Linked DNA regions of Homo sapiens. The protein of the gene in region 2 interacts with the protein of the main gene of each other region in a biochemical or structural test. Each region holds a gene or a part of one and is shown on either strand. Other genes may lie near its edges. The genes, in order: EPS15 and REPS2.

Region 1 (3,828 bases), on a different chromosome or scaffold from region 2:
CACCTATCACAACTCCCAGTCAAATTTTGCAGAAAATCCTTAGGTCACTGGATTCGTTTATCAAAATTAAGCCTTGTGATTATGATTCAGCCCTTGCTTCATATGTATGACTTTTATGCAGAAATGTTTCTATTTACAAAGGTAGAAAAAAGTTAGCAGTGCAAGATAGTGGTTTAAAGTTTGTTTTAAACTGTAGGAGTCTAATTGTGTAATGGAAAGAAAACAAAACAAGCACCATTTCAAGAAGAAATGAATTGGATATTTTGGAATTTATTTATAGGCTAGGCAATAAGTTACTCAGATTAACACAGATCAATACCACCTTGACTTGTTGACCCAGAGAATTCTAATTAGATTTTAGGTGCATTTTTCTTTATCTTGGTATTTAATACATCATCTAAGTCAGTAACCGTGTTAAACAAAATTAAAATGACAAGTTACAGCTTACTTCACAGTCTATTTCAAATTCAGCTTGTCCACTAGGTCAGTTTTACAGGAGATGGTCTTTTAACATGAAGAGGTCTGATAATCTGGCAGGTCTCTTCTCTCCCAATTAAAAAAACAAGAGTTTTTTTGCTAGCTTGACAATTTTATAGGTGAAAAACATGAAGTGAGTAAATAAACTAAACCACAAAGATGGACAAAAAGCAATATGATATAAAACACATCACTTTTTCTATTTGTATTCAGTGAAAGTTTTTACATTTCAAGTAAATGAGCCTTCATTAAAAAAAAAAAAACAAATATATATGAAAAATTAAAGTACCTTCCAGTTCTAGCTTGCTGAAGTTTCTTCTGCAAAAGTACAAAAATTAACCCACTAAGAACTAAACAGGACAGGGCCACGGCAAAGGCAGAATGGCTGCCATGTTAAGACTTTTGCTTGCCTTATACTGATGGGTATATTTTAGGTGATAAATTTTCTCCACTATCTATCACTTAAAATGAACATTTTCTTACAAACTTTATTTGTAAGAAACTGATTTTTATTAATTAGCAAACACACTGAGAGGTATCTGTTGATCTAAAATTCTCTAAATCCAGATAAATCTTTTTAAAAATTTATTTCACACATGAGGCTTTAATATTTTTAGTTAGGAAAAGATCGAATCTGAGGCTATAATGGTTCAACCTACAGCATCCCTTTTCCATAGTGGAGTAAATCTGTGCAAAATATTTTTCCTTATCTCTGAAAAACAAATTAAGTAGAGGAAATTTAAAAATGCACTTTAGCCAATTTGCACCAATCATAAAAGAAATAAGATATTCTTTCCCTTACCCTCACTCAACCATTCCAATCAGGGGAGAATACTGCAAACTTTAAGAACCTCACTGGCTATCATCAGAATAACTACAGAACAGGGTAGTGCAGGGTGAAACTATTTCTCTATATTCCAGAAGGCAGAAGCTTGGGTGCTCTAGCTTTACAAGTAAAATAGCACAGGCAGGCAAAAGCTCACAGTAAATGTATACCAGAACAGGGGCCTAAGTGAAGGTGAATTTGTCTGACTGGGTTACGGCTTTTATAAGAAAAAAAAAAAAAGACGAATCTGTAATGAAGAAAAAAAAAAAATCCTAAAATTTTGTCACATTTACAGGAATCTCAAACCTTTTGTATTCCCATGCTCACAGGTAGTTTTGATACACATTGTAAATAGTTTCAGTATTCAGGAAGAAGAATACTATATTGTTGCCAAAGAACAAGAGAATTCTTCATGCTTCTGATATCTCAGATTTGCTGAGTGCAATAGCCAGTTCTAAGTCTTCTTGTTCCTGCTGATTTAGTCGGGCAAGCCTCTGCTCTTCCTCTCTCTCACTTTCCCTCTTGGCCCATTCGATCATATCTTCTTCAGAGGGATACTGCCATTTAAAAGATCGATGAACAAACGAATAAATAAATGAGTAAAGCAAGTAAAAAGAAGGAAAAATAGTTTTTACAAAAGGACACCTGAAGGACTCTGGAAATAGTCTGGTTACTTGTTAATTCTTTTTTTTTTCCCCCTGAAAACATGTTTAATATTAACCAGTTATTAAGCTATAGTTTAATTTAAAAAATTAATTCAATCTATAGATAGAAAGTCTATAAAACTAAATGTTAAAAATGCCACTAGGCTAGATGTGGTGGCTCATGCCTGTAATCCCAGCACTTTGGAGGCTGAGGCAGGTGGATCACCTGAGGTCAGGAGTTCGAGACCAGCTTGGCCAACATGGCAAAACTCGCTCTCAACTAAAAATACAAAAATTAGCTGGGCATGGTGGTGGTGCCTGTAATCCCAGCTACTTGGGAGGGTGAGGCACATGAATCACTTGAACCCAGGAGGCAGAGGTTGCAGTGAGCCGAAAATGCACCCCTGCACTCCAGCCTGGGTGACAAAGTGAGATTCCATCTGAAAAAAAAAAAAAAAATATATATATATATATATATATATATATATATATATTTTTTTTTTTTAAATGTGATATATATATATATATATCTCACTAAAAAAAGTAGAAATGCTTATAGTAGATTAGAAGATTTAAAAACAGGACAGGGCTAGCCTTTTTGACCTAATGTAATGTAAAATATTTACCACTTCAACTTTACTGAGACCCTCACACAACAAATCATTTTTAATTTAATCCCACTGGTAGTTTCCTAACCCTTAATGTGTAAAAAAGCTAAGAAGCAAGAAAAAAAAAAAAAAGCTGATTTTGCTATACATCATATTAAAGTATTGGGTATACTAAGCAAGATGTGATTTAAACCTAATCTTTTTTTTTTTTTTTTGAGACAGAGTTTTCGCTCTTGTTGCCCAGGCTGGGTGCTATGGAGCAATCTTGGCTCACCACAACCTCCGCCTCCCGGGTTCAAGCGATTCTCTTGCCTCAGCCTCCCGAGTAGCTGGAATTACAAGCATGCACCACCACGCCCGGCTAATCCTGTATTTTTAGTAGAGATAGGGTTTCTTCATGTTGGTTAGGCTGATCTCGAACTCCTGACCTCAGGTGATCCGCCCATCTCGGCCTCCCAAGAACCTAATCATATTTTATAAAAAGCATTTTGAGCCAGGCATGGTGGCTGACATCTGTAATCCTAGTTCTGTGGGTGTGGGCCAATTGCTTGAGCTCAGAAGTTCAAGAAGTTCATCTTGGCAACATGGCAAAACTCTGTTTTTACAAAAAAAATTAGCCAGGTGTGGTGGTGCACATCTGTAGTTCCAGCTACCTGGGAGGATCACCTGAGCCTGGGAAGTTGAGGCTGCAGTGAGCTGTGATCATACCACCGCTCTCCAGCCAGATCGACGGAGTGAGCCAAAAAAAATAAAAATAAAACAAAAAGCATTATGAAGATTTCTCCAGGCTTTGGGAACTTTTAGACCAGTCTAAATAAAATCTTAACACTCATAATTATTATGTTGGGGAAATATTTTTATCTACCCCAAACAGCAACCTTGGCAAATACTAAATTAAAAATTCTAATTGGTTTCAAGTCTTGTTACATAGAAAATCCTTCATGAAAGGATGAAATAAAATACACTGTCAGGCTTTTGAAATGGTAGTTTTTTTCCCTAGGGAATTAAGCAAAACTTTGAAACGTGTAATGCTTAACCACATCTTTCACAATGAAAAAAGAAGATGTTCTTATTATAAGCTGTTTTTTATTATACTATATTGAGATTTTGGAGCAAAATGCCTCAGCTGTTGTTCAAGACTCCTTCCAACCAGATTTGTTTTTTTTTGTTTTTTTTTTTTTTTTTGAGGCGGAGTCTCGCTCTGTAACTCAGCTTGAGGACAGTGGCACTATATCAGCTCCCGCAACCTCTGCCTCTGGGGCTTAAGTGATCC
Region 2 (3,828 bases):
CAGGTGATCCACCCGCCTCAGCCTCCCAAAGTGCTGGGATTACAGGCGTGAGCCACCATGCCTGGCCTTAACATATTTTTTAATAGACTATTTTTTTTTTTCAGAGCAGTTTTAGGTTCACAGCAAAATTTAGCAGAGTACCCATATATCCCCTGCCCCGACACACCCGTAGCTTTCCTTACTCTCAACGTCCCACATCAGAATAATAGAGTTTTTACAATTGATGAACCTACATTGACACCTCATTATTCCCCAAAGTCTATATATTAGGGCTCACTCTTGGTGTTGTACATTCTGTGGGTTTGGACAAATGTATAATGACGGTTCCACCATTGTAGTATCATACAGAATAGTTTCACTGCTCTAAAAATCTGTGCTCTATTGATTCATCCCTCCCTCTCCACTAACATGTGGCAATCACTGATTTTTTTTTTTTTTTTACTGTCCCCATAGTTTTGCCTTTTTTAGAATGTCATATAGTTGGAGTCATACAGTATATAGGCTTTTCACTTTGGCTTCTTTCATGTAGTACTATGCACTTAAAATTCCTTCATGTCTTTTTATGGTTTGGTGGCTCATTTCTTTATAGTGCTGAATAATATTCCATTGTCTGCATGTACTACAATTTATTTATTCACCTACTGAAGGATATCTTGGTTGCTTCCAAGTTTGGGCAATTATGGATAAAGCTGTTATAAACATCTGTATGCAGCCTTTTTTGTTACATGCAGGAGATAAGCTTTTGACTCATTTGGGTAAATAGCAAGGGGCATGATTGCTAGATTGTATGGTGAGAGTATATTTAGTTTTATAAGAAACTGCCAAACTGCTTTCCAAAGTGATTGTACCATTTTGCGTTCCCATCAGCAATGCATTGGTTTCTTTACAGAGTATTTATTTTCCTTTGCTGACTTATTTTAACAGCAGGATTCTAGCACTAGGTGGAAAACGTATATGAGTTTCTGATGTGTGTCAGGTACTGTCCTAGGTGCTGAGGTTATAATAGTGAATCCAACACAATCTCTGTCTTCATGGAGCTTATGTTCTCATGTGAATGTTTTTACACTTCAGAGTTTTTATTTGGTTGAGAAAAGACTTGAAATATAACATCCAAAAATAAAATGTCAGCCTGGTGCTGTGGCGCACGCCTGTAGTCCCAGTGCTTTGGGAGACCAAGGATGGGAGGATTGCTTGAGGCCAGGACTTTGAGATCAGCCTGGGTAACATAGTGAGACCCTGTCTCTACACAAAATAAAATAGCCGGGCATGGTGGCATGCGCTTGTAGTCCTAGCTACTCTGGAGGCTGAGGCAGGAGAATTGCTTGAGCCCAGGAGTTCAAGGTTATAGTGAACTATGATCGCACCATTGCTCTCCAGCGTAGGCAACAGAGCAAAACCCTGTATCAAAATAAAGTAAAATAAGCCTGTCAAACCCAAACCAAATACATGTCAAACCCAGACCTGATTCTTACCACACACTATGCCTTCTAGTAAAATTCTGGCCTTTGAATACCAACAAAATACTTCATAACCTGGGAAACCAACTACTCTAACGTTTGTTGCTCTGTCTTGAAATACTAAACAAAACCATTTACCTGTTCGTAGACATATTTTCTTTTTCTAGTTTAAAAGTATCCCATTCTGCCATTTTCCACCTAGTGCTAGAATCCTGCTCTTAAAATAAGTCAGCACAGGGAAATAAATACTCTATAAAGAGACCAAAAGACCTTTCAAAATAGGCTATGGCCAGGCCCAGTGGCTCACGCCTATAAATCCCAGCACTTTGGGAGTCTGAGGTCGGAGGATTACTTGAGCCCAGGAGTTCTAGACTAGCCTGGGCAAGATGGCAAAACCCCATCTACACACACACACACACACACACACACACACACACACACACACACACACACACACACACACCCCCGCTACCTACCTCTCTCTGGGGCATGCCTGTAGTCCCAGCTATTCTGGAGGCTGAGGTGGGAGGATCCCTTGAGCCCAGGAGTTTGAGGCTGCAATGAGCCATTATGACACCACTGCACTCCAGCCTGGGTGAAAGAGCCAGACCCTGTCTCATAAAATAAATAAGTAAATAAATAAAATATCTACCTTAAAGCAGCAAGTTTTGTATTTGATGTAATGAATTAACAGACCGCTTTATAATATCTATCTTTTAGGATAGTGTCAGTCTCTTGGAATGCTGTGCATGAGTCATCATTAAAATTGGTTTTCATTAAAAAAATTTTTTTAACATATACACATCTTATTGGAGTTTTCTTTTAAAATTCAAAAATGGGAACATTATTTTTTCAAAGCCAAGTAACAGAAGAGTATATAAAAAAGTCAATTTTGTGCATATCTTTTTACATTTTCTATGCTCATGTAAAACATACATGACTTATGTAATTATACACATATGCTCCAGATCTCATCTGTATTAATTTTTTAAATTATACTTTAGTTCTGGGATACACTTGGAGAACGTGCAGTTTTGTTACATAGGTATATATATGTGCCATGGTGATTTGCTGCACCCATCAACCCATCATCTACATTAGGTATTTCTCCTAATGCTATCTCTCCCCTAGCCCTGCACCCCTGAATAGGCCCCGGTGTGTGATGTTTCCCTCCCTGTGTCCATGTTTTCTCATTGTTCAGCTCCCACTTATGAGTGAGAACATGCGGTGTTTGGTTTTCTGTTCCTGTGTTAGTTTGCTGAGAATGATGGTTTCCGGCTTCATCCATGTTGGTTTTCATTTTTGTGATAGTTAATTCTTGGACATTAAGGGGAATAATTATAAAACACTGTTGCTTCCATATCAAGGGAAATCACTGAATGATTAAAAAAAACCCAATAAGTGTTGTCTGATTGTTTAAACAGCTTTCATTGAGGTAAATAAGTAAAACAAAGCTGTGAGAAGTAGGGAATATTTAAACAATTTGTGCGCATGCCCTCACCTTTGGGGAGAAGTCTTTTCTGAAGGCTCTCTTCTGATTTTTTGAAGCAACTGTTTAATCATTAAAGAAAATTATAGGTAAAAGACAAATTCTTGTGAACTTTCGCTCATTGCTAGATTATTAGGCAGAACTATTTTTTAAAAATTTAAATGAAACAACTTTATATTTTTACATCTTTAGATCATATCATTTTGTAACTATACTTTAGGGAAATAGAGGCCAGCATATTAAAACAGTAACTAGGGGCTGGGCAGGGTGGCTCATTGCCTGTAATCCTAGCACTTTGGGAGGCCGAGGCGGGCAGATCAGCTGAGGTCAGGAGTTTGAAACCAGCCTGGCCAACATAGCGAAACCCCATCTCTACTAAAAATACAAAAATTAGCAGGAGAATTGCTTGAACCGGAGAGGCGAAGGTTGCAGTGAGCTGAGATCAGGCCATTGCACTCCAGCCTGGGAGACAAGAGTGAAACTCTGTCTCAAAAACAAACAAACCAAAAAACAAACACACACACACACACACACACACACACACACACACACACACACAAACACACAAACCAGTAACTAGGACTAACTATATGCTGTTTTAGATTGACAGTATTCTTTTTTTCTAAAAGAGAATGAATGCCAGCAGATGTAGGAAGTACCAGAGCTAAACCATTGCCTGGTTAAAAGGAGTACCTCTGCATAATAGTTACTTGTTGACTCTTTTGTAATAAAATATTTCAGGCATGTAAAACTAGACAGTTACCCAAGAAATAACTGTGTATCCACCACTCCGTATAAGTAAAACAGCCCAGCTAGAGTGAAAGCCTGCTATGTCCCCTTCTCTGGTCCCATTCCCCTCCCTCCCTACCCTGGAGTTACCAG

Evidence for each region.
Region 1: the proteins of REPS2 (region 2) and EPS15 interact in far-western blotting, tested with the Homo sapiens proteins (one study listed by BioGRID).

What each region holds. Positions count from the first base shown.
Region 1 is NC_000001.11:51,354,987-51,358,814, forward strand, and holds part of EPS15 (epidermal growth factor receptor substrate 15), read right to left. Parts: intron 1,861-3,828; coding exon 1,714-1,860; 3' UTR 1-1,713. UniProt on the Homo sapiens protein: Involved in cell growth regulation. May be involved in the regulation of mitogenic signals and control of cell proliferation. Involved in the internalization of ligand-inducible receptors of the receptor tyrosine kinase (RTK) type, in particular EGFR.
Region 2 is NC_000023.11:16,949,641-16,953,468, forward strand, and holds part of REPS2 (ralBP1-associated Eps domain-containing protein 2), read left to right. Parts: intron 1-3,828. UniProt on the Homo sapiens protein: Involved in ligand-dependent receptor mediated endocytosis of the EGF and insulin receptors as part of the Ral signaling pathway. By controlling growth factor receptors endocytosis may regulate cell survival.